2 separate regions of the Homo sapiens genome follow, and region 1 is linked to region 2. Evidence: fine-mapped expression QTL. Tissue or cell type: cerebellum. Region 2 holds a variant in brackets; the other region holds the start of a gene. All regions are shown on one strand. Distances are between the middles of the regions.

Region 1 (2,915 bases), 97 kb after region 2:
AACAAAAACAAAAACAAACACAATCAACATGACCCAGCCTTTAGCAACTGCTCCAGGAGCAGCTGTAAATAGATCCAGAGAACTTATCTGTTGCCCCTCACAGTGCCTGAACCAACATATACTCAGATAGAATAAGAAAAAATGGTGATCAACTGGTTGTCAAACCCGAGTACCTCTTACAGACAAGTAGAGTTCTGAGTTCTACAGTCTTCACTGCAGTGCCAGGGGAAATCAGCATTGCCATTCTTATTTTACAGGCAGAAAACCCCCGGCACCAAGGGATTAAACAATTTGTATTGGAATGAGATTTTACTAACTCCATAGAAAATGGACCTAAAATTTAAACATGGGTAAACCACATCCTTTATTTAAACAATATTTTACAGTCTACGATGAAAGAGTACTTAGAGATGGAATTTGCAGATTGGCTGTTCATGAGTTCACAGAAAAATTATGCAACTTTCCATTCATTCAGCAAACACGTATTCAGTTCACAGTGCTAGGCACTGTGACAGGCCCCAGAGATAAAAGCTCATCTAATAATATTACCTGCTCTCATGGAAAGCATAAGAGGACACACATGAAAGAAATAAAATGACATGGATACTGTGACAGTAACAAAAATCTGTATATGTTACAGTAAGAGCCCGAAGAGAAGACAAGTCCTGAAAGATCACTCTGTATTCGTTCTGCCCTGTGTCTGCTTGGCAACAGAGAGAATGCTAGCAAACACTGAAAGAGTTGCAATCCTTGCCAATTGCAAGCCCACAAACAGGTGAACATAATATAAGAAAGTGCTAGAAATCGTGACTGCATGTGAACATAGAATGCTATCTTTTGTGTCTAGTATCTGAAATGAGATTGTAATTATTTTCCAAATCTTCAAAAAATGGGCTTTGGAGTTTCCCACAATTTGACTTTTAAATCATAATTCTCTGCTAATGGTTATTTTGGCAAAGTAGAGCCTTATCACGGGGAGAGCCTAAAATCAACCCAGAGGTTAGACAGTTGGGAGAAGGATGGAGTTCCAGGACTTGTCAAAATTAAACACAGCTTTCAGCCCACTTATGCACTCTCTTCGTGAAACATTCTCTTGCATTGACTTTGGCAACGCCTATTTTCCTGGTTTCCTTCTAACTTACCAACATTCCTTCACAGTCTCTTTTGCTGACTCATTATCCTCTATCTTTAATAAGAGGTTTTTCAGGGCCCTTTTATTTTCTCACTATACTCTTTTCCTTGGCCATTGCCTCTTCAACCATGACTTCTATTACAATAGGAATGTCAATCACTTTCACCTGTCTTCAATTTAGATCTTTCCTCTAACACCCGGATATGTAATTCAACTCTTAACTTGATATCTCACTTGGAAGAGTTACAAGCCTCTCTGAAAAAAATCCATACAGGATGGAATGCATGGCATTTTCTCTGAAACTTCCTCCCTGTCCAGTGTTATCTACCTTGGAACGATTGTCTCATTTAGAGGGACTCTCTAACCTGAGTACACATTTGAAACATCTGAGGGCTTTGAAACATACCTGCTCCTGGACCACCTGCTGAACCAATTAAATCAGAATTTCTGTTGTGAAGATCTCCACGTGAGTTTAAGGTACGGCTAGGTTAAGAATTGCTGAATATGTCGCTCAACTTGGAAATCCGTTTGTCTTGATCTCTCCCTTTTCATTATCCTTTCATAGTCAACCACCTGTTGATATTTCATCTACTAAATAGCTCTTGACTCTGTTTTTATCATCAAAGCCATCACCAAGGTACCATCTTCGCTGGTCTGAAATAATCTTCTAACTGTTCTCATTGCCTCTAATCTTAGTTTATATCCATGCCATTGTCCACAATGCAGCCAGGGCGATTTAAATAAATCTGATCAATCACTTCCTTGCTTAAACATTGCACCGGCTTTCTGCTTGATTTTAAAATAAGCCACAGATACTTATGGCCTATACATATGTGAATATAGGGGTAGAGTTTTTGTTTGTTTGTTTTGGTCTGATCAGCAAATTTCCTCATCTCTACTCCTCTGGAACATATTTTCCTGACCCCCAACCTACCGGGTGGGCATATGATCAGGTCTCTTAGGGGTGCGGATGGTGATCCAAGCCTTCCGGGTTATCAAGGGCCCTCCTGCCTTACAATTTTGGGGACTAGAGTAGAAACAGCTTTGCCTCTGGTTTCATAGTGAAAGAGTACGAATTTGAAGCGCTTGGCAACCATCTTTCTCCCCCAACCTCACACGGTCAAACTCAGCACTCCTGACAACTGGGGGAAATCTTCTATGATGAATTAGTTATTTGAGGAATATTTTGTTTATTTTCCAGCTTTCCTGCTCAACTGTTAGTTCCATGAAGGCAACAGCCATGCCTGCTTCGTTCACTGAAATATCTTCGTTTCCTAACACACAGAAAGTCATCATTTTTTGACGGATGAAAGAATGGATGAATGCCTAGTCTTGGAGACATCTACTTGCAATAAAGGTTAGATGAAGGAAATGGATGCCAGTGGGAGATTTGTGGATCTATTTCACCAGATTTCACTCTGCTGACTCAGCAAAATGGTCCCCGAAGAAAGTATGTATGATATATGAATGCCTAGCCACCTGTCTTGGAACAAACAGGGATTTCTTTAGCTTTCTCCCACCAGGAGATGCTCCCCTGGCATTTTTCAATACTCCTCTTCCCTAAAAGGTAAAATTTACGTCCCGATAGTCACAGTGGGCTGCTTTATTGTACAATCTGACATCAGAATGGAAGGAGAGAGTATGCTTTTTAAGTTCCTTAAAATGCAGTTCTATTGAAAATAGCTGTTGAGACAAATAAAATAAGCTGCTAAGGAACAATAAGAGACATGATGGAGTTATAGAAATGTGTTATTGTGTTCCACCCAGAAAATATTATGCAATA
Region 2 (2,915 bases):
ACCCTAGAAAAATGATACCCACCTCTGCTTTCATGATACCTCAGGGTATCTCCAGTTATTACAGGTACCAATGTGATATTTCCAAATCAAAACTAATTTGTACACTAACATCATAATGTGTGTGTGAAGGCATGTTTTTAAACTTATTTTTTTTTTCTCCAGGTAGGACTCTTTTGTTTTTTCTTTTGTCTTTTTTTTTTTTTGAAACAAGTTCTCTCTTTGTTGCCCCAGGCTGGTCTTGAACTCCTGGGCTCAAGCAATCTTCTCATTTCGGCCTCTTTGGGATTACAGGCATGCACTGCTATTTTGTCTTTTTTTTTTTTTTTTGTAACAAATAATGTACCCTACCTTCAAAAAGTTTGATGACTACTGTTTTAATATGCCACTTGATAGAATTTCCCATTGTTTCTTGACTTTTTCCCTTGTCCTCTTTTCCCAATGTGAAGGCCTTCATCAAGTTTAGGATCCCAACAGATTGGGCTGGGTGGGGGTTGACAATGGGGTCAGATACTAAAGGGTCAGAATTTCTAAGCAGGCACTGTGAAGGTGTCCCACTATTATACAGAAATCTCGAGTCAAATGTCAACTCTCCTTTTCGCTCTGTACTGCCTCCCTCACACCCTCTTCCCTGGACTTGGGCAGAAAGAGGTAGATCTGATGTTCTGTGCTAGGGTTTCTTAAAGGGAAAAGCTCAATTTTTGGACAAAGTTAATAAAAAGGAGGATGCTAATGTACCCTCAGTTAAGGGCTCCCAGCAGGCAGATAAATGCCTTTCTGGAATGACGGGTGTAGGGATTAAGAGGAGCAGAGGAGAGGCCTTTGCTTTTTCTTACTTGCCACCAACAACTAAATTAAGCCTTGAATCTTGGTCTGTGCTGGCTCATTTCATATGTGTGCTGAGAAAATTCACACATATGAAGTGAGCCAGCACAGACCAAGATCCCTTTGGATCCCTTTGGAGCAGAAACATTTAGTGTCTTTGTATGTTCTCTGTGGGGAAGGCTGATAGCGCATTTCTCCATCATGAAGGTGTAGATATGAGCGGTAGTATTGCTGTTGCTGGTGGTGTGTGCACCCAAAGAATGTGTGTGGTGCACACTCCTGGCGTTTGCATTTTTCTAGGTGGGGTGTGCACCCTTGCATTCTTGTACACACTTTCTTACATACGCTCCTGGGAGTGGAGTGGGTGAAGCAGGATTCATTTTTGTTTTTAATTACTGAAGTCCTACACTCCTCCAAAAGGAGCAGCTTAGTGGAAACCAATAAAAATTGAAGCGGGGTGGTTGCCAAAACCCCAGCTCCCCGGAGAGCGCAGGTGGAGAGAAGACATCAGAGCC[C/T]CAGGCAAAGGCAGCAAGACTACACAGTTCCTCCAAAACTCCCCGCAAAAAGGGATCCTTCCCCCACCCCTCCAACCCCCCAGGTCGCTGCCCCTTTGATTAATGGTATGGAGCTCAAATAAATCATTTAGGGAAGCCCCTTATAGATTGCCCTCAGGCAGCCTCATTTTGTTTTGCCCAATTTCTAGCAACTTTCTGAAACGTCGATGTCATTGAAAAGGAACCAGTAGATCTCCAGTACTTGAACAAATTATCCTAGGGCCAGTACTGAGCCCTGTGGCTGTCCAGTTCTAGCAACCAGCCCCTTCCTCCATCCTCCCCGCTCCTACTGGCTTATTTTCAGGAATGGATAATGTTGTTTATTTGTTCAGCCAAATATTTGGTCTGGGGAATTTACCGTGAAATTCTGTGAATTGCATATACCTAGTTAACAAAATAGTCCTAATGCCACAAATGTTAGCATGGAAAACAAAGAGCTATGGCCAGCGTTAACTCTTTAAATTCTGTTTGAAAGCTTAGTCCTGAGACCCGGGGAGATTAAAAAAAAAATAAAAAAAATTGGATGTGTGTGATTTAGGTTTCGGCATTTACTATTTTTGCCTAATATTCAGTTCAGTACCTGACGGAAGTCGTAGGGTGATTCTCGGCGTTGCTTTTGGATCAAGCCTACCATTTCACCCCATTCATGTTTTTTTTTTTTTTTTTTCTCCAGAGTAATGTTCCTATTACTGAAAGAAAGATGGGGAGGGAAGCTCGCCCTTGAGGAGTTCGGCAAAGTCGTAACCACATCAGAGGAGCTGCTTGGTCGATCCCTACCCAACCCTTAAACTGGAACCGGCTTCCTAGGAGCTTAAAAAAAAAAAAAAAAGGTTGGGGGGGTGTGGAGTGGGACGCATCAAACATTCCCCTGCTTTCGTTGCATAATTCGCCCAGAACCTGCCAGGTGACCTGCTGACTTTGTTTTCTGTCTTGACCGTGCTTCGTTCCACACCCCCCTCGCCGCCGGGCAGCGCCACACTGAGAGGGCTCGGCGCGTCCGCGGCGCGGGCAGACCCCAGTAGTCACCCGGCCTTGGACTGGCGTCAAGATCCAGCCCCGCCGACCCCGCCTCCCGCCCGCTCTGGAGCTCCCAGGCCCGGCGGCGGCGGGGGCACCAGGGGGCGTCCTCCCTGCGGGGGACCAGGGGGACCGTGCACCTGGCGACGGCCCGCGGGAGCCGCGCGGCAGGCGGCCACCCCTCCCCATCCCCGCCGACCGCGGACTGCGGGTCCCCCAGCCCGGGCCCGAGAGCCGGCCCGCTCATCCGCCCTCGGGGACCCAGGCCTCAGGTGAAGCTCTGCAGACACAGACGGATCTGATTAGCGCTCGCTGGTCCTTGGGGCGGTCGCTCTGCAGATTTCATGCGAAATGGGGTCAAAAGGCCGCGCAGAAGCGTGGAGTCTGCAGGGGAAGGCTCCCCGGGGTGGAGGGGCTTAAGAGGGGTCGAGACCTTTAGGGGTTTTCTGTAGGGGGCAGAGAGCGGGAATTAGGGAGCGAGGCTCTCCTGCCTCCGAGCTCACAGTGGGCCTGCATATGGGG

Direction of the effects. Alleles are on the strand shown, and positions count from the first base shown. SD is a standard deviation of normalised expression in the study named.
In carriers of allele C in region 2, the expression in cerebellum of the gene that starts at base 1,478 in region 1 tends to be lower than with T alone (moderate effect, 0.66 SD a copy in GTEx).

What was found.
Region 1: it holds the start of LINC02331, and the variant in region 2 is fine-mapped to the expression of LINC02331 in cerebellum (GTEx, PIP 0.95).

Annotation. Positions count from the first base shown.
Region 1 is chr14:53,849,389-53,852,303 of GRCh38, reverse strand. LINC02331 (long intergenic non-protein coding RNA 2331) reads left to right here and starts at 1,478. Exons shown (of 6, transcript NR_184221.1): 1 at 1,478-1,609; 2 at 2,334-2,489. RefSeq lists an enhancer at 1,020-2,219.
Region 2 is chr14:53,946,443-53,949,357 of GRCh38, reverse strand. It overlaps MIR5580 (microRNA 5580), which reads left to right and starts at 874; the gene lies at 874-931. RefSeq lists a silencer at 2,459-2,508 and an enhancer at 2,479-2,915. The variant C/T (reference allele first, on the strand shown) is at 1,338.